Linked DNA regions of Homo sapiens. The protein of the gene in region 5 purifies or fractionates together with the protein of the main gene of each other region. This does not show direct contact. Each region holds a gene or a part of one and is shown on either strand. Other genes may lie near its edges. The genes, in order: AKAP1, FMN2, RAP1GDS1, TBC1D4, APBB2, SYDE2 and GOPC.

Region 1 (4,080 bases), on a different chromosome or scaffold from region 5:
CATAGTGGAAGAAAACGCCTGAGAATGACAAGCTGAAGGTATTAACTCATACCTGAAACAACTGACTTCCCCACAATAGGAAAACAGACCAAGCTACAGAAAGGCCCAATCATTCAGACTCACAGGGAAGATTAGGAAGGAGTGACCTAGGGGAACTCTACGGCCAGCTCTCTGGGTACATTGGCTACAAGCTGCCTGCTCTTCAAAGCCCTGAAATGCACACACAATCAAGTCATGTTGCAGGCTGGGAGCAGGAGGCTAGCCAGCAAAGCTTAGGGAAACCAATTCGTTTTTCCTCCCAAACAAGCTTCTGGGTCAGAGGCTAAGGAGAGGGGTGCTTTTAATAGAATTCAAGTCACTCAAGTAATTCAAGAGAAACAAAGTCAGTCTCAGGGATTGTTCAGGGAGGAGAGGGGAAGAGCAATGCTTAAGCACCTATCACAGTCCCCAGTATCACAAATATGATCTCCATTTGTCTTTAGGACAGGAAAAGGGAATACTGTAGAGGCTAACACCAGCCTTCCCCTAAAATATGGCTGCAACCCAGCCTATGTCCAAAGCTCAAGAATAATTTGGGTTACCAGGCAGCAAGATAAATTGCTTTTAAATATTGATGTTCAGCAACCTTACACTGGAGACATATCGACTTCAGCACCTGAGCAGGCCACTTACAACAGACACCTCCACTGTCACCCTGCAGTGGCCAAGTGAGAATGCATTTCCTAGAAACAACTGGGAGATGGGAGAGATATTCCTACAAGGAACTAGACCTAGACACAAATCCATTAGACCTGTCTCACTCATTGGCTAGGATCTGTTACCTGCAAGTTCTGAGCCATCATCTGACAACATGCATGAAGACAGAGCCTATTAATCCAGTAATGGACTCAAGCTTTAGTGATTTGCATGCCTGTAGGATCCAGAGGACCTCCTCTAACCTAGGGCCATATTTCAAAGAGAATACACCCAAGAATTATGCAGAACCTACAAAACTAGTTAGAGGTTAAAGAAAAGTTCAACACAAGTCAAAAGGTTCCCAAAACATAACTTCACTTGCTTCCAGTGCTCAGGGTCTTAAATAATCAGCAGGTGAACCACTTCAATGCCAAGATCAGAGGAATTATATAAATGATCAAGTCAGGCAGCCTTCTTCATTTCAAAGATGTTCTGTACCTTTAAGAGCAAAGTGGATGGGTGGTGCTAAGAGTCCAAGCTTTGCTTTCTAAATAAAGAGTTAAAAAAAAAAAAGGTACTAATTTGGGAAGGACTTAGCAGTTACAAGAGCTTGTAAGGCTACTAGTTGCCAGAATTAATAGCTTTTTGTGAACGGTGTTCCTTGATCAGTAACTAACAGATACTGTTGCACCAGGTCCAGCAGCCTAGATTTCACTGGAGACAAATCTAAACACGAAGTAACGCGCACTACAGTAGGGGAAAGATACCCAGGTTAACCTCACTAATTGCCCTGCGCATACACCCTACCCAGCTTGAGAGGCCTCGACTCGCACCTGGAGCGAAGTCCACCGGGTTTGTGTTAACGGCGGCAGGAAGGCGCCGCCACCCAGGACATCCCCCAGGAGAGGAAGATCCCGAAACGCCCAGGGCTCCCATGCCGTTCCGAGTCGCCACAGCACCGCCTACCACGATCAGCACCTTTCTTCTCCTATCCCTCCCTGGAAGGGAAACAGGAAGACCTTCAGCTAGGGCACAAAAGAGTTGAACGCCAGAAAGCCCGCGTTCGAGGCATCCAGCCACTGCCTCTCCTAGCACATCGTAACCCCAAAACTGGCGCGGTCCCTCCAGATCGCAGACCCCGGGCCCTGGGCCGCAGGCGGGGCCGGACACGTGACCGTCGGGGCCCCCGGGCGTGAGGTCGGCAGACACCCCAGGCTGGACGGCCTCCACCCCTCCGGACACGCCTGCAGGGGCTACGAATGCAAATTCCCCCCGAGACGCCCCTGAGCCTCCGACCTCCAGACCCCAATTCGGTTCGAACGGTCCCTCAGCCCGAAACACGGTTGGATCACAACCGGCCGATGTCCCGGCCCATCTTCCCAGTTCCCCTGGCTCGCCGCACGGAACTCCCAGGGGCTGCGCCGGCGGGCGAGCCGAGGGTGAGAAGTTGGGCGAGGCTCCAGAAGTGAAGGGGCAGCTCCGGCTCAGACTGTGTACACACGACCTTTGAAAAGTAAACGCCCGCGGGGCTGGGCGACCTTGGGTGGGACGCGCTCGGGTCAGCCTCGCAGGCGGGTGTGCACGCTCCGGTTAAGTTGAGGTGCAGAGAGGCGACCCGGGCGTCGCGCCCTCGCCCCCCGCCCCCGAGGACAGTGACGCGCGTGGGGAGGACGGCGCGGCCGCAGAGCGCCGCCCAGAGCCGCGCACACGCGATCTGTCAGGAGCCCGCGGGCAGACAACCGGCGGGGAAGGACGAGAGGGGGCGCAGACGAGGGAGGGAAAGATGGGCCTGCCTGACAGCGCGCGGCGGCCGAGAGCCCCCAGGACACCTCTGCGTCCGGAGCGTCCCGCCCCCGGGGTACCTGGAGGGCGCGTCGCACCCTGCACCTGCACCTCAGGCTCCCCATCGCCCCGACCCCGCCGCCTTCGGGTCTCCGGCAGGGGGTCCCCGGCGCAGCTGCCCCCGACCTACCAGCTCCTCGGCTACCATCGGGGTGCGGGATGCGGAGTCCGCGCGCCGCCGCCGGCCCCCGGCTGTGCCCCGCGGCCCGGCCCGCAGCGCCGCGCTTCCGCAGCTCCCCCACGTGCTAGCCCAGGCGGGTGGAACACAGAGACATTAAATACTGAAGACGCGCGGCGACGTGCCCGCAGCGCGACGCAGGCCCCGCCCCTCGCCCTTGTGCCCGCGCGCTCCCGAGCCCGCCCCGCTCACCTGCGCGTGCGCGCCGCCGGCCGCTCCCGGCAGTGCCTCCGCCGCGCCTCTCCCAGCTGCGCCAGAGGGGGCGCGGTCTACAGCGCTGGGCTAACATCCCGCCGCCGCCCGGAGCCGGGTCTTGCTCGCGCTCTCGCGAGAGAGCCGTCATCTCTCCGGTGCCCGGGAGAGGGGCCGGGCGGGACGGTACAGCAACCGGAGGAACCTTGATTCCCTGCCCCGCAAGCCCAGCACCGGTTTTGCCGCCTTGTCTCGAAGGGTCAACCAGGCCATCTCCTGCCTCGGGACGGAGAGCGCCCTGGAAAAGGCGGAGGGGCCGGTGAGGAGCAGGGCTTCCCTCGCTTCGGGGCTTTGAGCTTCCCTGTGACCGTCATTTCCTTGTAGCGTATAATTGGGTTGGCCATTAATAATTGCTCGATAACTGCATAATGGTGAAACCTGGTACCACTCAAATGCAACTTTCTTGCTCGTTTTCACAAGTCGATGTTATCGAAATGAAGCACTTTTCTCTGAATTGGTGTGGGTTTTGGAATGATTTTTGCAGAGATAGTCACGGTGAGTCACTATCTCTGCCAGGACCTTGGGAAAATAAATTCCTCCAAAATAAATGGAGAGGGTAGGGTTTTGGCTGTCCAGCCCTGCTGTCATCCTTAAAACAAAGTGACTTTAAATGAACATTTGTTTGGCCAAAATATAGAAAATAGATCATGCTAAGAACTAACAATTACTTGGGAAAATGCTTAATCTTCACTAGTGATCAAATGCAAGTTTAAATGACAGATGCCATTTACTATACCTAATGAGATTTAAGTCAAATTCATATATATATGAATCCCAATTGCATGGTGTGGTAGATGTCAGGAAGGAAACAAATAGGAAACTGACATAGGAAAGAAAGAAAAAGAGCCCTATTTTTTATTTTTTTTTTTTTGTGAGACGGAGTCTTGCTCTGTCGCCCAGGCTGGAGTGCAGTGGCACGATCTCGGCTCACTGCAAGCTCCGCCTCCCAGGTTCACGCCATTCTCCTGCCTCAGCCTCCCGAGTAGCTGGGACTACAGGCGCCTGCCACCACGCCCGGCTAATTTTTTGTATTTTTAGTAGAGATGGGGTTTCACCGTGTTAGCTAGGATGGTTTCGATCTCCTGACGTCGTGATCCGCCCGCCTTGGCCTCCCAAAGTGCTGGGATTACAGG
Region 2 (4,079 bases), on a different chromosome or scaffold from region 5:
TTCATTAAATTCTAACACTCTATTTCATTTAATAATTAAGAATAGAGGTTAGGTAAACATGTTGGGCTCTTAAGGTAAGGCCTTGGGCCCTGTAAGCCTGTAAGCTAGGATAAACTCATTGGACTGCTTGACACTGACCAGAGCAAACATACTCTGGCTGTGCTTTATGCCGCCCTGGGTATGAGTCTATAACATATGCTAGGGAGGGGAGGTACCAGTTGGACTAGACGTGCTTTTGACCTTTCCACCTTCACTGTCTCCAAACTACAGGCTGTTCTGGGCTGGACCATGAAACTGAATGAAAATTATCCCTACTATTCTATTTATTTATTAATTTTCTAATAGCATGTATCGGATTTTCTTGCAGCAGCAAACAGCAGTGAGTGACCGCTTAACTTCACTAAGCAGCGGAACCCAGACTGCTGCAAGATAGAAACTACATATCACATACATACCAAACGTGGACAAATACACACAGCTATGAGAGCGGTCAGAGACTGCCTTTGGATCGTACCGGAATAAATGATTTGTGCCTCCAAAACCGACTCTTGCGAAAGAACCATGAACAATTTTTTTTCTTTTTAATGCTGTGGTGATGAAAAATGAAAGAGAAGAATGATGGTTTAGCTAACGAGACGAAAAAGGAGTTTATCTCCCTGGCGTGACCCGAAACTTTGTGAATAGCAGGTATTTTGGTGAAATGGGCAGAGCAACTTAGGACAGACACAACTAAGTTGTTCCCTTTAAGATCTTGTAAGAACACAGAAAACCAACAAGTATGTCCAAGTCATTTCACCGTGGGGGGTGAGCTCGCTGGGCGGAAAAGGATTCCCTACGGAGAAGAGATGTGCCACTACCAGGTCACCGCCTTCCAGAGCCCAGGGAGGGCGGGTGGCAGGGGAAGGCCCTGACTGACAGGCGACTTGAGACCCGGAGGCCAGCAGCAGGGCGCGCTCACCTGTGAACACGTTCTGGAAGCCATCCGCAGCCGCGGGGGCCCCAGACGCCTTGGCGGCCAGTGCTGGGGACACCCCACCGCCGCTGTCACTCGCCACCCCGCGCTCCAGCAGGTGCGCGGAGCCTCCCACCCGGGGCGTGCGGGCGCCTAGCTCCTCCGTCCAGTCAGCCGAGCGGCTCAGGCCGGCCGCAAGGCCGCCGTCGGCCCGGTGCTTCTTGGCCGGGGCGGCTACGGAGGCCAGGGCAGTTCTGGACCCTCGGCTCAGGGAGGGTTCCGGCCGCCTCTTGATCCTGGGGCTCTGATTAGGGGACTGAGACGGGGAGTGATTGGGCGAGCTGAGCTGCCGGGTGGTGGTCTTGATGTAGCAGGGGGTGATGAGCGGGTAGGGCTTGAAACAGCGCTGGCTAGGCGCGGGGCTGCCGGGCAGGGAAGCGGCCGCGGGGGCGTCAGGTCCTTGCGCCTCCTCCTCCGGCTCTTCCCCCAGCCTCTGCGGGGCGTCCTCTCCCACCTCCGGGGCCCACTCCTCCCCCGGAGAGCCCCGGGGCGCATCCTCAAAAGCATCCTCCTCACCCTCCTCATCCGTGTCCCCAGCCCCTCGCACGGGGGCTCCGGCCGCTTCCTCCCCCGGCCCGGCCTCGGGAAATGGGAAAGCCGTGGAGGAGGGCGAGTCTTTGGCCGCGGGTTGCGCTGCCGGGAGACTGGGCGCCTCGGAGACCGGGAGGCCGCCGGGGGACGGCGGTTGCTGGGGCTCCCGGGGCTCGGCGGCCAGGCTCTCGGGCAGGTCGGAGAGCGCGGACAGCGCCTGCTCGGTGTCCGGACTGCCCGGGGCCTCCCCAGCCCCGCCGCTCGGCCCCAGCAGGAACCGGTCCAGGCCCAGGAAGGCCCCGGGCTGAGGGGAGACGGCAGTGGGGGGCGCTGCAGGCTCCTCGGCGCCCTGGAGCTGCTGCTGCTGCTGCTGTTGCTGGAGCTGGAGCTGGAGCTGCTGCTGCTGCTGCTGCTGCAGGCGGATCGCCTGCTGGATGTCTGAAAGCAAATCCTCTTGCTCCGTAGCCGAATGGAAGCTATAGATGTCCGTGTCCGAGCCCGAGCTGGTCCTTTGTCCATCCTGCGCCCCTGCTGCAGTTTCCACATCCTCGGCGATCGGCCGGCCCCCGACCCTAGCCTCGGCAGGCCCAGGACCCCCTGGACCGGTCACCTCAAAAGGGTCCGCACACTCGGTATCCGACAGGCCGGCCTCGTCCGCCGAGAGGCTGAGGTCTGGAGTCTTGGTGAGCAGGGAGTGAGCGCTGTCCAGCTCCCCGGTCTGCAGGGCCTGGGAATCCAGTACATCTTCGCGGGAGCCGCCGGCGCCTTTCCCCTTGGACAGATTCTTCCTGATCCGCAGGTTGGAAAACACCGAGGCTCTGGAGTCGGACTTGCTCTTCTTCTTGCCCGACTCCCCGCCGCCGCCGCCGCCCCCTCCCCCCTTGCCGTGCTTGCCTAGCGCCTTCTTGCCCCCGCTCCCCTTCTTTGTGGCTTCCACATCCCTGGGCCCCAGCGCATCCTCGGCGCCACCGCCGCCTTCGTGCAAAGCATCACCTGCGCTCCTCTTCAGCTTCCCATCCTGGTTCCCCATGGTGCAATCCCGCTGCTGCGCCGCCGCGCCGCGGGCACTCAGGCCATCCCGGCCCTCCTCGGCCCCAGGTCCGGGCCTAGGGAGTCTCCCGGGAGAGTCAGGCGGCGGCGGGGGGAGCCGCTGGGAGGGGAGGCCGACGCGCGCCCGGCTGGCCCCGCTCGCATCTGCCGCCGCTTTGCATAATGCGCGGCGGCTCCCGTGGCTGCCGTCGCTGCGGCTGCGGCTGCGGCTAGGGGCCGGCGGGGCGCGAACATGCTCAGTGCAGAGCGCGGCGCCCACCAATGGCTGCGCAGAACGCAGCTCGGGCCTGGCTCCCCGCCCGCCGCCGCCGCCCCCTCTGCCCCCGCGCGGCTCCTCGCTGAACCTGGGCGCGAAAAACGTTTCCTCTATCTCGGGGACTTTAATCTCCACCGTGCGAATCGAATGCATTGTCCCCGACCGAAGAGATCGTCAGCTGGAAGATGCACTCTGATCTTCAAAGCTGCTGGACCTGCCAAGAGAAAAGTTAAATAAAAAAGAAGAAATTTTTACACGGAGAAAAACTGAAGCCCAATTCCAGTTTAGAGGTGCCATCGGGTCACAGCCACATACACAACCCCCTGTCTGCCTCTGCATGGCTGTTCAATAAATATTTGTTGAATGAATGGATTGTTCTGTTTCTTGAATAATTGATCATCTAATTGAACACTGTTAATGTGCTTGAGCATATGGTTTAGGAGAGGTTACTACACATGGTGCTGCTTTTATGTTTCACACACAGACCCTGCTTCTCCAGGAGAGGACATTAGCTGTCATTTATAAAATTGGTTTGTGATTTTTTTGTTGTTGTTGACAGAAGGAGAGGTAGGAGAAGTAGAAAATACTGAGATTAGTGTTGATTAAAATGCTAGTCTCCAAATTCTATGTGTTTACCATATAAATTAAACAGCATTTGTATTCAAAAAGGGTGCATATACGATAACTCCCAGGAGGTCAAACTCATCAATATTAAACATGTCACTATTGTGGCTGCCTATAAAAAGGAAAAAGACAGAAAGGAAACACCCTTGGCACAAACACACAAAATCAGATGTTATGCTATAAACTACCACTTTCCCAAGCAAACCCTTCCAGGCAGACTTCGTCCTGTAAAAGTTTCTTAACGTTCTGGCCACAATATGGGGATAAACATTTTTCCTCATTGAATATTTTGTCATTGTTTTCATTATTTATTAAATTTAGTTACCTATTTTTTAAGAATAGTTTTTTTAAAAAAATATGGATATCTAAAGCTTTAAGCAGTAAACTGAGATTAAAGTGGCATTAATAAGTTTTACAAGTATTTAAGTAAAAGTCATTGATAACCACTTTGAAAATATGGAATAGACATCCAACTTATTAATATTTTCAAAATAACCCAGAGGAGGGAGAAAAGCTATATATTATACTGTGCAACTTAAATGTAGCAAGCAAATGTGTAGTCTTCCTTTGCATATTATGAACCAGCCTTTAAAATTCTTTTTTAAA
Region 3 (3,500 bases), about 57 Mb from region 5:
TTTGGAGAAAGGCGTTTAGTTAAACATTTACCAGCACCCCTCTAATTATCATTATTAAAAATTATAAAATGAGTTTTATTTTGAACTCAATGAGTTTAATTAGTAGAGATGTCTACTAATCTGCTAAATACAAAGATGTAGCCCAGATATTAATAAATATATTTCAGTACCAATAAGTACCTAAAGTCATTTTGTGAACAAAAAGGACTTTGGAATTAACAAGTACTGTTGACCCTTGAACAATGCAGGCACTAGGGGTACCAATCCCCCTCTCACTCAGTCAAAAATCCACACATAACTTTTAACTCCCTAAAACCTTAATAGCCTAATGCTGACCAGAAGCCTTACCAATAACATAAACAGTCAATTAACACATATTATGTATGTTATATGCATCATATACCATATGCATCAAATACCATATTGTTACAATAAGGTAAGCTAGAGAAAAGAAAATGGAAGGAAGAGAAAATGTATTTACTGTTCATTACATGGGAAGTGGGTCATCATAAAGGTCTTCATCCTTATTATAGTCACTCTTGAGTAGGCTGAGAAGAGGAGGGGTTCATCTAGCTGTCTCAGGTGTGGCAGAGGTGGAGGAGGTAAAAGGGGAGGCAGGAGAGGCAACTCACTTGGTATAGCTTTTATTGAAAAAAAAAAATCCACATGGAAGTGGAACTGCGCTGTTCAAATCCATGTTATTCAACGGTCAACTGTACAGCCAATCATAGCTAAGAGCTCAATTTAACCACTTCCATTTATCACTAACCTAGTCCTTGGTTTTAACTCCTGAAATGCTTCTAGTTACAAAAGCTATATAAATAGAAGCACTGAGAGAATTATTTCACCTGCAATTTGAATCCAGCATCCATATCTTAGCCAGCTTGAGAAATGTTTTTTTAGGTCATTTATTCAGACAAAGCTAAAGTTGGTTCAAACCCTTAAGTTGCTACCTCAAGTATACATTACCATTTGAACACTAAAGAAAAACAAGTTATATAGAGGTTATATTTAAGATACCAATGATATGGAGTATATTTCAAACTTCAGTTTCAAGGAATCACAGGCTTTTATAACTGAAATAGTCTTTATAACTATATGGTTTGAATGTTTTTGTCCCCTCCAAAACTCATGTTGAAACTTAAACACAACAGTACTGGAAGGTAATGGGAGGTGTTTAGGTTATGATGGCTCTGCCCTCATAAATAGATTAATGGCATTATAAAAAGAGCTTACCAGAGTGGATTTTCTCTTTTGCTTTTCTGTTGTGTGAGGGCACAAGGTTTCTCCTCTTTGGAGGACACAGCAACTAGGCCTCATCTTGAAACCAAAGACCAAACCTGCAGGCACTTTGATCTTGTAGTTACCAGACTCCAGAACTCTGATAGAATAAATTTCTGTTCTTTATATATTACCCAGTCTGCAGTATTCTGTCATAGCAGCACAAAATGGACTGAGACAATAACCTATTCTAATATATTCATTTATTATTTACATCTAGGTAAATACAGATTGAGTATCCCTTATGCAAAATGCTTTAGACCAGAAGTGTTTCAGATTTTGAAATTATTCAGATTTTGGAATACATGCATGATACTAACTGGTTTAACATCCCTAATCCAAAAATCTGAAACCAAAAATCCAAATGCTGCAATGTGCATTTCCTTTGAGTGTCATGTCAGCATTCAAAAAGTTTCAGATTTTGAAGCATTTCAGATTTTGAATTAGGGATCCTCAACCTGTATTTTTATTTTATTTTAGCTACTGAGTTGTATGAGTTCCTGATTATTTTTACGTGTTAACCCCTAATCGGATATACGGCTTGCAAATATTTCCCCTCATTATGTAAGCTGCCTTTTCATTTTGTTGTTTCCTTTGCTACAGAGAAACTTATTAATTTGATGAAGTCCCATTTGTTTATTTTTGCTTTTGTTGCCTGTGCTTTTGGTGCCATAAACAAAAAATCATTGCCAACACCAATCTTATGGAGCTTCTCTCCAGTATTTTCTTGCGCGCATCTTATGCTTTTCAAATTCAAATCTTTTGTTTAAATCTCTGACCCATTTTGAGCTGATTTTTGTATATGGGATGAATAAGGATCCAATGTCATTCTTCAGTATGTGGGTATCTAGTTTTAACAACAGTGTTTATTGAAGAGATTGTCCTGTCCCCATTGTGTTTCCTTGGCTTTTTTTTTTTTTTTTTTTTTTGAAGATCAATTGACTGTAAATTCTTGGGTTTATTTCTGGCCTCTCTATTCTGTTCCATTGATCTATGTGTCTGCTTTTATGCCAGTACCATACTGTTTTGATCACTACAGCTTTGTAACATGACTTGAAGCATGTAGTGTGATGCCCCTGGCCTTGTTCTTCTTGCTCAAGATTATTCTGGCTATTCAGATCTTTTGTGGTTCCATACAAATTTTAGAATTGTTTTGCTATTTCTGTGAAAAGTTTCACTGGAATTTTGATAGGGATTACATTGAATCTGTAGATCACTTTCAGTACTATGAACATTGTAACAATATTAATTCTTCCAATTTATGAATATGGGATATCTGTTAATTTTTCAAATTCTTTCATCAATGTCTTACAGTTTTCAGCATAGAGATCTTTCACCTTCTTGGTTAAATCTATTCCTAAATATTTTATATTTTTGCAGCTACTGTAAATAGGATTGTTTTCTTGATTACATCCTCAGAAAGTTTGCTGTTAGTGTATAGAAATGCTTCTGATTTTTCTATGCTGATTTTGTATCCTGAAACTTTACTGAATTCATTTATTAGGACTAATAGTTTTTGTCTTTTTTTTCAAGGAGTCTTTAAGGCTTTCTATGTATAAGACCATGCTATCTTTAAACAGATCATTTTACTCTCCAATTTGAATGCTTTTTAATTTCTTTTTCTTGTCTATTTGCTCTGCTAGGACTTCTAGTACTATCTTAAATAGCAGTGGCAAGAGTGGGCATCCTTGTTTTTTTTCTCAATCTGAGATAAACTTTTCAGATTTTCACCATTAAGTATGATGTTAGCTATGGGCTTGTCATATAGGACCTTTACTATGTTTAGGCATATTCATTCTACACCAAATTTGTTGAGAGTTTTAAAAATGAAAGTATGTTGAATTTTGTCAAATGCTTTTTCTGCATCAACTGAGATGATCGTATGATTTTTGTTCTTCATTCTGTTAACGTGGTGTATCACATTTATTGATTTGTGTATGTTCAACCATTCTTGCATCCCAGGGATAAATCCCACTTGATCATGACGTATGATCCTCTTAATGTGATGAGACTGCAAATCAAACCACAATGAGACACCATTTCACACCAGTCAGAATGGCTATTATTAAAAAGTAAAAACAAACAAACAAAAAACAGATGCTGTAAGGCTGTGGAGAAAAGAGAATGTTTTTACACTGTTAGTGGAAATATAAATTAGTTCAGACACTGTGGAACGCAATTTGGAGACTTCTCGACGAACTTAAAACAGAACTACCATT
Region 4 (3,500 bases), on a different chromosome or scaffold from region 5:
TTCCTCACCAAGCAATTACTCATTCCAAAATGAGAAAAGGGCATGTGAACAGTCTCTGCCTTACTGAATGGTGTTATTTCTCAGGCTGTAAATCAAGCTTTAATTTTTTCAAAAACTATCATAATCTGAAATTAGGATATATGGGTTGCGTATCACTTATCCAACATACTTGGGAACAGAAGTGTTTCAGATTTTGAATTTTTTTTTCAGATTTTGGAATATTTGCATATACATAATGAGATATCTTAAGGATGAGACCCAAGTCTAAGTATAAAATTCATTTATGTTTCTGGCTGGGTGCAGAGGCTCATACCTGTAATCCCAGCACTTTGGGAGGCCCAGGCGGGCAGATCACTTGAGGTCAGGAGTTTGAGACCAGCCTGGCCAATATGGTGAAACCCCGTCTCTACTAAAAATACAAAAATTAGCTGGGCGTGGTGGTGCACTCCTATAATCCCAGCTACTTGGGTGGCTGAGGCAGGAGAATCACTTGAACCTGAGAGGTGGAGGTTGCAGTGAGCCGAGATCGCGCCACTGCACTCCAGCCTGGGCGACAGTGCGAGACTCCACCTCAAAAAAATAAACAACAACAACAAAAAAACTTCATTTGTGTTTCTATACACCTTATACACATAGCCTCAAGGTAATTTTATACAATATGTTTAATAATTTTGTGTGTTTTGACTGTGATCTCATGAAATCAGGTGAAGAATTTTCCACCTGTAGTGTCATGTTGATGCTCAAAACGTTTCTGACGTTAAAACACTTTGGACTTCAGATTTTTAGGTTATCTGTATTCCCCTCAAAATGAACTGTTTATTCCACCTGCAGAACTTAAAACTTTTGGCTGAAAGGCAAAGTTTTCATTCAACATTTGCATGGTCTTATGATGTCTGGCAGAATAATGTCTATATCAGGGAAAGGACAGGCAAATCATTAAGCTAGAAGATGAAGAGCTTCTTAAAAATATTCCAGAGTCAAATATTATTTCTCCTCACATTCCACTTGAACTTTCAAGTCTGAGAAAGACTACAAAAATATCCAGGGGAACAGAAATGGTCATACAGCCAACCAAATGAACCAAATAACTTAGCACAGGGTTTCTAAAACTGTGGTCACCCGGCCAGTAGTTTGAGCATCACCAGAGAACTTGTTAAATCAGAAATTGAGGGTAGGGTCCAGTGGTCTCTTTTAAGAAGCCCTCTAGGTAATTCTGACACACACACTGAAGTTTGAGAATCTCTGGTTTCTGATAATCAAGCCCTGACACTGAACACCTTCAATTTTCAGCTTAGGGCTCCTATCATAATGTGCTCCATTGTGGCTGGGAGTCTCTGGGCTATGTTTGTGCCTTTCCGCCAGATATTGCAGTCAAGATTCTACCACAGAGCCAAGGCAAATTAACCTCCACTTCAGACTGCAAGGAGGAGAGAGAATAAAAAATGATTACAAAAAAAGAGATAGATCTATCTGTCCACAGAACAAACTTCTTAGAAAGCACAGAGAGGTGAAATCTTCCAGGTTTCAATTTCTCTGGTATTCTTACTAGTATATTCTCAAAGCTACTAACCATCAACTTTGAAAAAGAACTGAAAAATGACCTTCTAAAAATATATTGACAAAAAAACTGGTTACGTGAATAAAGCTCAGATAGTAATACACGTTTTTAAGAGAACTGAGAGTTGGGAAAACACTGGCATTAAATTCCTTTTTTTAATCTTAAGAACACAATTTGTAAAGTCTCTTTAAAATCATTCTTGCAAGCTTCAGTAAATAATACACAAAAACAACCAATAAACATTATAACAATCATGTTTTTACCTTTTAAATGATTGTTCATCCTATAATTATAAAACATAATGATGCTTCAAAACTCACAGGCAAATGTTAATTAAAAATTAACATAACAAAGTCTCATATTTTCAATAACAACTCCTGCTTTATTTTTTATTGTAGTAATGTATGTATAACATAAAATAACTTTTTAACAGAAAAATTTGGGTAATGCCATACAGACTCTTTTTGCAAGTGGATAAATATTTACAGAGTATTAGTGACCTATCCTAGACCTTTGGGAGAGAATCAGATATTCTTGTTTCCCCAATCAGTTTAAGTCTGTAATTCACTTCATGCCAATGGGATTAAGCCCTTTTCCCAGTTCAAATATTCAAGTTTAGCTGAAATGTGCTAAGCCTGACATTCCTCCTGTATAAGACTACATAGGCTTGACTAGAGACAGATCTGCATTGGCATACATTTCACCCCCATCTCCATTTCTCTTTGCACCTTGGAGAAACAGTGGTGCATTGAGCCATTCTGGTTGAATGCTTCTCCTGACACACATCCTTAAATTGACTCTGACCCAAAGGGAGGTGTGGAGCCAAGAGGGAACACATCACTGTGGCAACTCCCCACAACAGACCCCCAAGCGATTAGTACAGCACTCCCAGCTCTAAGGTCAAATGTAGATCCAACTCCAATATGTGAGTAGATACTCTTGAAAACATTATCATTTTATATTAGTAACCACAATCCTCCAACTCGGTGGCTCTGCATGAACACAAACTTTGCCATGGTGACCATATATCTCGGTTTGTCCTCAACAGTCCAGGTTTATTACTCACAGTGCTTGTATAATTATTAGTGGTGCCCCTTTTGACAATAAAATTGTCCCATATCAAACAATAAAGTATACGGTCATCCAACAGATAGGGCCATTGCATTAAAGGAATAGGCATGACAGACAAACCACAGACAAGTATGTTAGGGGATGTTTGCAGGTCTACTGCTCTAGGCTACGTTTGTAGACTTTATAGACTCTGTCGAGGACTGAGGGAAACACTTAGGAGACTCTCTTAACAATGATCTTAAGTCCAAATAAATAATTCTCCACTTCAAATATAGAACTCAGAACAAAGCAAACAGCAGGTCTTCCTTCTGATTTCAAGGGTCCCTAGAACTATCCACAGCCAACTCTGCATGAAGCATACTGCTGGATGATAATATGTTGAACTGACCCCTTTAACATGTCTAGCTGCAGAATCAACACTTCTGGGAATTTTTCTGCTAAATTCTTCAAAAAGGATGGTCCCAGCTTCCCCTACTATGACAGCCATATCAAATGAACCTGGATGCTCTAAAGGAAATACAGCAAACAGCACATAGTGTCAATGACTGCGCTTGTCCACTCAACAAATATTTATGCCAAAGATCAAAAGTGGCCGCTCATGGATCTCTAAAGCCATCTCTCAGATGTGTATTGTTTGGCCCAGATAGGATTCTTAAATGTTTACAATATTTGCCAGTACTTTAAAATGCGGGGTCATATATAAAAATTCAGATTTCCACTCTCTCTTGGGAAATCAGCAGCTCTAGCAACGCTAGACTTGCATCCTATTCATGCAATTTCCAAGTGGAGCTAAGTAGCACCTTGAGAAAGGCCACCCACTATCCAGTCCTCCATGGTCCTCACTCAACCCTCTTCTTTGTTATTTGAGTTT
Region 5 (3,500 bases):
AGAAAGTCGTAACTCAGAGTCCAAAATATAGGTAATTCATAATTAAGAGAAAAGCAAACTTTTATAACACACCACTGTACTGATACTGTCTCTAATATAATAATCATGAATATTCATTGAGCTCTTGCTATATGCCAGATACTGCTCCTAAAAGCTCTTTGAAGATGCTCTCGCTTAATCTTCACAGCAGGTCTATGCCAAAACACTCTTATCCCCATTTTATAGATGAGAGGCTATGAGAACTGCCTAGATATAGCAGAGCTGGGATTTGAACTCAGGAAGCTCACTCTAGAGCCTATGCTCTTAATGATAAGTTAATGGATCATGAGGCGCATTGCCACACCCATCTAGACTTGGGACTTGGTTTTCTCTGTGTATAATTCTGCTTTTGTACACTTTAGCAATGAATCTGATTTTGAAACAGTTACTACACAAGATCCATCTAGTTTCATACTCTGTGTCTTCAATTTTATTAAATCCCAAACTAAACATAAAATTACATGTGGGTACCACTGAAACCTGTACCCAGGAAGGTTCAAAATGATGCATCTTTTCAACGTTTTCATAAAGCAAACATGAAACACTAAGTGATTAACAGAGAGACTATATACAGTGTGACCAACAGGTATTTATTTATCTGAGCCATCATGCTTACTACCTGGGGCCACTGAGGGAACTGTATCTTTGAAAAAAACCCTAACTAGATTCAAAGTTCTCACTTTGCAGTAGCAAGATACAACCTTTCTTTTAGAATCAGGGCCAAGGCACTCTTTAACTTTTCTAAACTCCTATGAAAATAGTCATTTCACAGATGCTTTTCCTTTTTCAAATAGCCTCTTGTTTTCTTAAAGGACAGACTACAGAGGAGGAAAAGGGCAGCCACATATTGTATACATGATTGATTGTACAAAAAGAAGTTACTAAACAGCTGGAGGGGGCGATTCAGTAGTAAAGGAAAATAGAAAGTAGTCAGTCTCTAGGTTAGCCATTGCATTTTATTGTATAAATAGCATTCTAACTTGGAAAGGATGCCCCTGAGGTAGAAATGAGTCTATTTTTCTAGGCTCCCCAAAGTGCAGTCTACGATCCAAAGATAATTGCATCATGATTTAGTCATAAAACACACACCACTGTGATGACTATGTATTTAACACACAGCAAGTCAACAGACAACTATACCCTTTTTATACATGTACTATGGCATGGCATACTAAGATGTCACAAGATATTTGCTCTCGTTTTCTCTTTTCTTTCAACTGTTGGTATTTGTGTTTATTTTATATATATACACATACACATGTATATACTATATAAAACATACATAATAAACACTAACTTTATCATTACAAGTGAAACATACAATGTTTAATTTAGACTGATCATGATTATTTTAAACACTAACAGTATGTTTCACAGGAAGGATGAAATCAAAAGAAATACAATGCTAAAAAACTGCTTATTTTATTTCATTCACCAATCTATGTATTACCTGAAACCTGAAGTGTGATTAAAGCAAAGTGATTTCATTTCATGGGGATCCACAGCAGACTCTGAGGCAATTCCAAAAGAGGACTCCCAAAATTATGACTATTAATATTGAGACAGTGCAACATGCTGAAGCAGGTGCAGAGATCCCAAGTGAACATTTTGAAGGCTGGCATAGGTTTGGCTTCTAGTATATTTTTTAAAAACACAATCTCATTGCTTTTCGGTCACAGCTAATACATTTTTTCGAGCATATTTGATTTGAAATACCTATCCTCAGCAACTTATCAAGGGCCACCATCATCCTGTCAAAACCAACTTTCAGAGAGAAAACTAAGCATATCTTCTTAACATGTAAAAAAAACTCTAATCCAGTTCTCATCACAGGCCAAGCACTGTAAGATGTTCTGTGGAAACCCAACAGCAAGTAATGTCAGGACACTGAGCAAATGAGTGGTAAGTGTCACAGCAGAGGGGCCCCTGAAAGTCTTCCTGGAAAGAGGGAGTTAACGTGTACATTTCAAGAGTCCCAGTAGGTAGACTGGAGTGCACAAACTTTGCCCTCTCCACAGGCCCCTACTGACACCAGCACTCAATAAGCCAAGGGGCTATGGACAGAAATACCTAAATACTCATCAGCAGGGAACTTGCTAAATAAATCGTGGAACTTGTATATAGTGGAATAGTATACATAATACTTAAAAAGACTGACGTAGAAAAATGGACTGATCTACAAAATACGTTCTTACGTGAAAAAAAGCAAAGCATTCATAAAACAATCTAATTGGAGTAACTTTTTCCTGGTTTTAACTATTTATTGTGGCAAATTTTAAACATACAAAATTAGAGAATAGAATAATGAACCCGCACGTACCCATAATGCAGCTTTAACAATCAGCAGCTTATGGGCAATTTTGTTTCTTTTTTTATCCTTCTAATCCCAATTATTTTGGAGAAAATACCATACACAATATTGTTTCCATCAGTATGTGTTATACTGTATTATATATGTTATACTATGACATAGATTAGTATTTTATATTAGTATATATCTCTAAAACATAGGGATTCTAAAAACATCATCACAACATTTGGGTAAATTTTAAAATTGATTATTATTGTTTTTTTTTTTAATTTTAATTTAATTTAATTTTATTTTTAAATTTCTTTTGAGATGGAGTCTCGCTCTGTTGCCCAGGCTGGAGTGCAGTGGCACAATCTCGGTTCACTGCAACCTCTGTCTCCCAGGTTCAAGCAATTCTTCTGCCTCAGCCTCCCGAGTAGCTGGGACTACAGGCACGCACCACCACACCAAGCTAATTTTTGTACTTTTAGTAGAGACAGGGTTTCACGATATTGGTCAGGCTGGCCTTGAACTCCTGACCTGGTGATCCACTGCGCCTGGCCTAATTTTTATTTTTTGAGATGGAGTCTCGCCTGTCACCCAGGCTAGAGTGCAGTGGCGGGATCTTGGCTCACTGCAACTTCCGCCTCATAGGTTCAAGCAATTCTTGTGCCTCAGCCTCCCAGGTAGCTGGGACTACAGCCACCCGCCACCATGCCTGGCTAATTTTTAATGTTTTAGTAGAGAAGGGGTTTCACCATGTTGCCCAGGCTGGTCTCAAATTCCTGAGCTCAGGCCATCTCTCCACCTTGGCCTTCCAAAGTGCTGGGATTACAGGCGTGAGCCATCATGCCGGTCTTAAAATTTATTATTAATATGCGGATCTATGACTCAAACATTTTCTGAGAGGAAATAAAAACATAAGGTAATGGTCATCACTGGGAAAGGGGGCTGGGGTGAAGGGAAGAGGCAGCTTAATTATTCATTTAAAAATACATTTATGTTTTTTGAAACAGAGTCTCGCTCGATCACCCAGGCTACAGGGCAATGGCATAATCATGGTTAACTGCAGCCTCGAACTCCTGGTGTCAAGTGATCCTCCTGCCTCAGCCTCCTGAGTAGCTGGAACTACAGGCACATGCCACCGTCCACCATGCCCAACTAATTTTTT
Region 6 (3,500 bases), on a different chromosome or scaffold from region 5:
ACACACATATTGAAAGAAGGTCCAACTAAAAATATAAAAATAAGTATGCAAAGTTACAAGGCAAAAAAAGTCCTTAGTCTCTTGCAACTATACATGTTATGGGATAATTTTCAGATTCTAATTAAAGTAATTTTACTTTGAATCTGTAAGAGAAGAAAGAAATGGCAATTAAAAGTTTTTCACTCAGAAAAATATTCCACACAGTGGTGAACTACCCAAGTCAATTCTGTTTTCTCAACTATTATTTCATAATAAATCTAGATTACTTACTGAACATTTAACTAGTGCCCCCAGCTCAAATGCCATCAGCAAATTTTCCAAGAAATTATATATTTCAACCCTCATTGAAAATCTGTAGTACCGGCTGGGCGCGGTGGCTCACGCCTGTAATCCCAGCACTTTGGGAGGCCAAGGCGGGCGGATCACGAGGTCAGGAGATCGAGACCATCCTGGCTAACACGGTGAAACCCTGTCTCTACTAAAAATCCAAAAAATTAGCCGAGCATGGTGGCGGGCGCCTGTAGTCCCAGCTACTCGGGAGGCTGAGGCAGGAGAATGGCGTGAACCCGCGAGGCAGAGCTTGCATTGAGCCGAGATCACGCCACTGCACTCCAGGCTGGGCAACAGAGCTAGACTCCATCTAAAAAAAAAAAAAAATGTGTAGTATCTAGAGAGACATCTTTTCATCATTTTAAAAATTCTGCAGAAATAAACTCTCTTGCTTTTCCTTACTTCTCTTTAAAAATCCCAAATAAAAGTATCTTATGAACACTGTATTAGATGTTTAAATCTGTTTTAAAAGCATTAAACATTTTAATATTTATTAAAATCCTGTTTCTAAATAAGTACAAGTATCCCCTGCTTAGAGTCAAACTTGGCAGTCCAGATGAAATTACTAGAATAAACTTAAGTCTTAAGTTTCTGTGTGTGTATATGTGTGTGTGTATCTTTATCTTTCCTAGACAAATCTAAAAGGAGGAGAGGGATGGAATGAAAAGGAAAGAAGCACCTTTTTTATTTTCATTCCCTTGTGGCTAGCAATAAAAACCCTAAAGAAAAAAAAAAGCTGTGTGTTAGCTTTTGAGACGGGAAAGTAGAGAAGAAAACTCTGAGACCGTTTTCAGTTCCACAAAAGTAACAGGGAGCAGCAAAAGAAAGGAGCACAAAAGATGAGCAGAATAAATAAATACCCCAAAAAGGTGTCCTCTAGCTCAATTCCCAGTGCTCCTCAAGGCAGTACTCCTCAACTTCGACCTTTTCACTCTCCATCTAGAATCCTAATGATCTGAGGCAAAGCAGTATTCTCACAAAGCCTGCTTGCCTTCCCCTTGATAATAACAAGTAAGTGCTAGGCACAGCACCAAATGGATTATCTCTTTTCATCCTCACAGCAACCTGAGGACTGAGGCTACACAAGGTTGAGTAACTTATCCAAGGTCACAAGCCTGGTAAGTGGTAGAGTCTGACCAGAAACCCAGAATCTCTATTCTGTTAACCATTGTCCTATACGGCCTCCTCTCTTGCATTTCCAAAATCTCACTAATACTTGTTAGTTAAGCAAGATGAGGCCAATATAGAGGGAACTGCTCAAATGTGTAATATATAAGTAGTAAGTATATTAATTCATATACATAAAACTGAAGCAAAAAGAGCCCAAGTGCTTTGCTCTAATAGGGGTAGTTTAAGTACCAAGTATCAGAATAAGGTAGAATTTTTTGTAAAACTTCGGGGATGTGAGAGCTCTAGAAGCTTACTATTCAAAAGTACGGTACACCAGACAGCAGCATCTACACTGGGAGCAGAATCTCAGGTCCCACCCCACACCTATAGAATCTGCATTTCAACAAAATTTCCAGGGAATTCATATGGACATTAAGTTTGAAAAGCACTGCTCTAAAACATTGAACCACATTTTGAGTGGCAAAGGTCTAGCAAACAGCCTTCTTAAACACAGCATTTCTTGGGAGCCACTGGTCTAGAAATGTAGGACTTTCAAATCAACACAACACTGTTTTCTGCTGAATTTGTAATTCTTGAAGTTTTCCAGCCACCAGCAACTCCAATGTTCCATGACACTCTTCCAGAAAAAGAAAAAAAAAAAAAGCAACTGCACTTGCTTTCTAGCACCACAATAGCAGAATCTCTCAGGAAGAGATTTAAAATTAGAAGACTGTCAAAAACTATATAACTATTGCTACTCACCTTGAAAAGGGCAAATACAGAAAAAAATTGTTGGAAAAATTCATAAAGATTATGCAATTCATAAAGATAAAAAATCAGAGTTACAAATACTTGAGAAAAGTAGATGGGAATCAAGTCATAGTGTCAACTTCACTTTAAGATGGTTAAAGATCATACCAAACTAATTAATACTACCTTAAAATAATTGTCTAAAAATTTTAGACAAAATACTAAGTTATACAGTCTAAAGTTTTTTCTTTCCCAGACCATGTAGCAGGAAAAGTGGAGTCAAAGTAGGCTAATTATTTTTTAAAGCAATAAAAGGTGCTTTTGAATTTGTTTCTGAAAACTATATGCTAATTAAAACTTATTTATAAAGATTTATAATGATGTATAGTTGGCAAACACATTAAGATTCCTTTGTAATCTTAAGGCTTGCAGAAACTTGACAATTTTTATTATGTGTAATGACTTTAGATTTCTGAAATAATCATCTCAATTAGGAACAATTCGGCCAATCTGCGAACACTACATACTTAACTGCATCAAATCATTTGTCATTATAATACTATCAAAAGTTCTTAGTAGGAGCCAGAAATCAAAATAGAAAATCATTTGTGTTTCCATTTGTCATATAGTCTCAAAAATTTTCACAATACCTATATGAAGTATCTCCATTCCACTGAATAATTATTCTGTATTACAAATTCTAAATGTAATTTTGACAAAATATCTTATGAATAATACTGTACAGAAAAATGTGCTATAAACCTTTTAGGATATTTAACATCTTTACATAAACAAGAATGTACTGGTTCATCTAGACCGCTCCAAATAAGTTTTGCAGAAAACATGATTTAAAAGTAGAAGTCAAGTGACATCAATTTCAAGTAAGTAAATATTTAAAGGTAAAAGTTTAAAATGAATACAGCAAATGCTTTTTTAAATTTTATTTATTTATTTATTTATTTTTTTGAGACGGAGTCTCACTCTGTCTCCCAGGCTAGAGTGCAGTGACACGATCTTGGCTCACTGCAAGCTCCGCCTCCCAGGTTCACGCCATTCTCCTGCCTCAGCCTCCCGAGTAGCTGGGACTACAGGCACCCACCACCACGCCCGGCTAATTTTTTGTATTCTTAGTAGAGACGGGGTTTCACAGTATTAGCCAGGATGGTCTCGATCTCCTGACCTCGTGATCCGCCCGCCTCGGCCTCCCAAAGTGCTGGGATTACAGGCATGAGCCACTGCGCCCGGCCCAGCAATTACTTTTTAAAATGTCTTTAAACCCGGCCTAAGATTCTCCCATCTTCTTTGCAACT
Region 7 (3,500 bases), on a different chromosome or scaffold from region 5:
CCAGTTTTAAAATACTGATCATGTGCAAATGCAAAACAAAACAAAAAACCTTTCAATCCTTCACTATCTTCCTTAGCAACTACCATCCTCCCCCTTTCCTTAACCTCTACACGAAGTTCATCCTCATCATATCTACTTCCTTGCCACTCACATTCAGTCCTCTGGTCTCTGTAATTAGAGTTTTGCCCCTACATGCACAACTGGAATTTTCTTTTCTGTGGTCACCAGTAATCAATATTGTTACACACAATTAACACTTTTTGTCACTATCCTACTTCAAACTTGCAGAAAGTTGATACTGTTCATCAACCCCTCCTTGAAACCCACTCTCTCTGTTAGTTTTTATTACACTACTTTCCTAGATGGCCTGTATCTGACAGCTCCATCCCAGGCTCCTTCCTTTAGTGATCCTTTTCCTTCTCCCACTCCATAAGTTTCTATCCTTGGCCTCCTATTCTTTTTACTACATATATACTTTATATATACATATATACTTGGAACAGGCTTAATGAGTTCCAAGGTTTCAAGTATAATAGAAGGATAGTTTCCCTAATATTTCTTCAAAACAGATTTCTCTTCTGAAATCCAGAGTCATATGTCCAGTTGGATGTATCTTGGATACCCCATTGTCACCTCAAACACTACTTGTCTAAAACTGATCTCATCATCTTTTCCCCAAATCCTTCCTTTTCTTCTATTTCCCTTCCCAGTGAATGCCAGATCTCACTCAGTTGCTCAAACTAAAAGCCCAGACTCTTCTTTTTCACTATTTAACCAAAAGCAGTTAGTCACCAATCAAGCCCTCCTGATTATAATCCTCTCAAATCTATCCTTCTTCTCAAATGCCACTTCTCCTGACCTCATCACTTTCTCCTTGGATGACCATAGTATCTTTCTAATATATCTCCTTGACTCCAACTTGGTCCTCTTCACTATACCAAAATAACTATTAAAAAATGTAAATTTTATGAAGTCTGCCATTTTATTTAAAACTTCCATGATTATCAGGTTAAAGTTAAAATTCCTCTATTTAGTATAAAATAATTTCTATAATCCAGCCACTACCTAAAACCCCAACCTCATATTTAGCTAATTTAACAAGCATGCTTTTATCACTCAGACACATCTGATACAAACTACTTTGTCTTCCTCCTAACCGCTCCATTTCCCAAATCTACTGGACCTAGAAGTTAATGGGAACCACCAGTGCCCTAGAAAACAATGGCATAAGTGCTTATCGCTATCCCCACTTCTCTTCCACCAACTCTATTTACATACCAATTCTTCTTACAAAAATCTTTGCAGAGCCAACAAACTATTTTACTATTTAAGGCCATACATTATCTGGTACTAAGATATGTGAACCCTTGGGAGACATGCTTTCATATATTAAGGTCTATATTATCAAGCAGCTGTTATGATAAAATTCAATAAAGATTTATCCAGATAGAAGCTTTTATATAATGGTGGCTACAGAAGCAGACAACTGGCTACAGATCTCAAATTCTATCTTAATCCAAGACCAAACAGGTGTAAATGTTAGTTCAGAATCTACATTTGGATTCAGTTACTAAAAGTTCCCTTAAAGAACTACCCCAAAATATCTGCCAAATTATCAATATGACCACACACTCTAAGCTAAGATTAAAACAAATTCAAGCATGCCCAATCATGATCCAGGAAAAACTGGAAATATGATCCAACATTATAGCAATATGCATTTGCTAACAATGGCTCACTGTCTGCAGCACTCTCAGGGCATTAGTAAGTCTGTGAAGAGCTACTAAAATTTCTATGGGTGTTGAAACTTCATCTACTTTGAATAAGTTGAATCCCATTTTCACTTTTAAATAAAGGTTTCAAACAATACTAGAATAAAGGAAAGAATGGAAAGCAACTGTGATTAAAGAAAGAAAGAAGAGGCTGGGTGGGAAGCAGCAGCAAAGCAAACATACATGGCCTGGTGGTGCTTGCATTGGTCGTTTCAAGTCATTACGTCCTCTGCAGGCTCGGATCACAGTTTTGTGACGATGCAAATGTATTTCAGCTTCTAATTGGTTCCAAAGCTTATCATGAGCAGGTCCCTTCATATCTCGTCCTAGCAATTGTATCTGTTGGACCCTTCATATTGGGAAAAGAGTACATTGATTTTTCATTATATTCACTACAGTGAGAATTCAGGAAAATTAGTGAACATAAGTAGCTTTTGCATGAATCTCAAATTAGTGATAAAACTAATACTCACGAACTTCTTGATGTCTCTCAGATATAAAAAAAATATGAAAACTCTGAAAAGAACAGGTATCCTCAAGGGAAAAACCAGTAAAAAAAATTTTTAAAGGAATTAATGTGAACTCCTTTAGTCATATACTTAATTCAAATAAATCTAAAAAAAAATTTATGAGATTAATGTCAATCTATGTCTTGCATGCAAAGTCACTGAACTCAGATACTATTAAATGTTAGCTTTTAGATGAGATAAATGGACAAAAATATTTCTTCTAATTAGAGTTTCTTTTCACAAAATGATTACTTTAAATGTGGTTAAAAGTTACTAGAACCAGCCAGGGCAACAAGGCAAAACCTTAACAATTAACCAGGCATGGTGGCATGCCTGTGGTCTCAGCTACTTGGAAGGCTGAGGTGGGAGGATCACTTGAGCCTGAAAGGTGGACGCTGCAGTGAGCCAACGTTGCACCACTGCACTCCATCCTGAGCGACAGAGTGAGACCCCATCTCACAAAATTTAAAAAAAAAAAAAAGTTACTAGAAAATTTGTACTTCAAGATGATATAAATTATTTTTTCTTTGTTCCATGTTTTTAATGTGACATTAAAAGAATATGCACAAAATGATTTAGTACTAATAAGTCACCAAAGTTTGTTAATAATTTACTTAATAAATACAGCAGAATTCTGTGTATGATTATGATAAAATCATTGTCATTAACTAAATACCAACACGTTTTTTTGAAGGGCAAGAAAGACTGGGTTTCAGTGATCATAAAAAGAATTCCTTATGGAAGTTCTGCTATGCATGTGAATATCGGCTGTACTGGTCTCAAGGCACAAAATAGTTGAAAAGTGCTGCTCTACAGAGTTGTTAGCATTTCACAGTAAGATACTATCAGTGTTTGTGTGTGTAAACTAAACATATTTAGTATGGATAACTAGATCTGCGATACATAATGCTGTCAGTATTAATTTAACAACAGTAAGTTAAAACCAACTGTAAAATAATTCTGAGGAAAAAGATTAATGCTTCATTTACCATAAGAAAAAAGAGTAGGCCAGGTGCGGTGGCTCACACCTGTAATCCCAGCACTTTGGGAGGCCAAGGTGGATGGATCACAAGGTCAGGAGTTTGAGACCAGCCTGGCCAACATGGTGAAACCCCATCTCTACTAAAAATACAAAATTTAGCTGGCCGTGGTGGCAGGCACCTGTAATCCCAGCTACTCAGGAGGCTGAGGTAGGAGAATCGCTTGAACCCAGGAGGCA

Evidence for each region.
Region 1: the proteins of APBB2 (region 5) and AKAP1 purify together in Homo sapiens (affinity purification with mass spectrometry; 4 studies listed by BioGRID and IntAct, with this or other methods). This does not show direct contact.
Region 2: the proteins of APBB2 (region 5) and FMN2 purify together in Homo sapiens (affinity purification with mass spectrometry; 3 studies listed by BioGRID and IntAct, with this or other methods). This does not show direct contact.
Region 3: the proteins of APBB2 (region 5) and RAP1GDS1 purify together in Homo sapiens (affinity purification with mass spectrometry; 4 studies listed by BioGRID and IntAct, with this or other methods). This does not show direct contact.
Region 4: the proteins of APBB2 (region 5) and TBC1D4 purify together in Homo sapiens (affinity purification with mass spectrometry; 3 studies listed by BioGRID and IntAct, with this or other methods). This does not show direct contact.
Region 6: the proteins of APBB2 (region 5) and SYDE2 purify together in Homo sapiens (affinity purification with mass spectrometry; 3 studies listed by BioGRID and IntAct, with this or other methods). This does not show direct contact.
Region 7: the proteins of APBB2 (region 5) and GOPC purify together in Homo sapiens (affinity purification with mass spectrometry; 3 studies listed by BioGRID and IntAct, with this or other methods). This does not show direct contact.

Annotation. Positions count from the first base shown.
Region 1 is NC_000017.11:57,083,966-57,088,045, reverse strand, and holds the start of AKAP1 (A-kinase anchor protein 1, mitochondrial precursor), read right to left. Parts: upstream 2,801-4,080; 5' UTR 2,648-2,800; intron 2,291-2,647; exon of another isoform or gene 1,972-2,290; intron 1,674-1,971; exon of another isoform or gene 1,509-1,673; intron 1-1,508.
Region 2 is NC_000001.11:240,090,604-240,094,682, reverse strand, and holds the start of FMN2 (formin-2), read right to left. Parts: upstream 2,801-4,079; 5' UTR 2,574-2,800; coding exon 959-2,573; intron 1-958. UniProt on the Homo sapiens protein: Actin-binding protein that is involved in actin cytoskeleton assembly and reorganization. Acts as an actin nucleation factor and promotes assembly of actin filaments together with SPIRE1 and SPIRE2.
Region 3 is NC_000004.12:98,267,884-98,271,383, reverse strand, and holds part of RAP1GDS1 (rap1 GTPase-GDP dissociation stimulator 1), read right to left. Parts: intron 1-3,500. UniProt on the Homo sapiens protein: Acts as a GEF (guanine nucleotide exchange factor) for the Rho family of small GTP-binding proteins (G proteins) that stimulates the dissociation of GDP to enable subsequent binding of GTP.
Region 4 is NC_000013.11:75,475,670-75,479,169, forward strand, and holds part of TBC1D4 (TBC1 domain family member 4), read right to left. Parts: intron 1-3,500.
Region 5 is NC_000004.12:41,008,543-41,012,042, forward strand, and holds part of APBB2 (amyloid beta precursor protein binding family B member 2), read right to left. Parts: intron 1-3,500. UniProt on the Homo sapiens protein: Plays a role in the maintenance of lens transparency, and may also play a role in muscle cell strength. Involved in hippocampal neurite branching and neuromuscular junction formation, as a result plays a role in spatial memory functioning.
Region 6 is NC_000001.11:85,194,517-85,198,016, forward strand, and holds part of SYDE2 (rho GTPase-activating protein SYDE2), read right to left. Parts: exon of another isoform or gene 3,120-3,500; intron 1-3,119.
Region 7 is NC_000006.12:117,571,512-117,575,011, forward strand, and holds part of GOPC (Golgi-associated PDZ and coiled-coil motif-containing protein), read right to left. Parts: intron 2,122-3,500; coding exon 1,956-2,121; intron 1-1,955.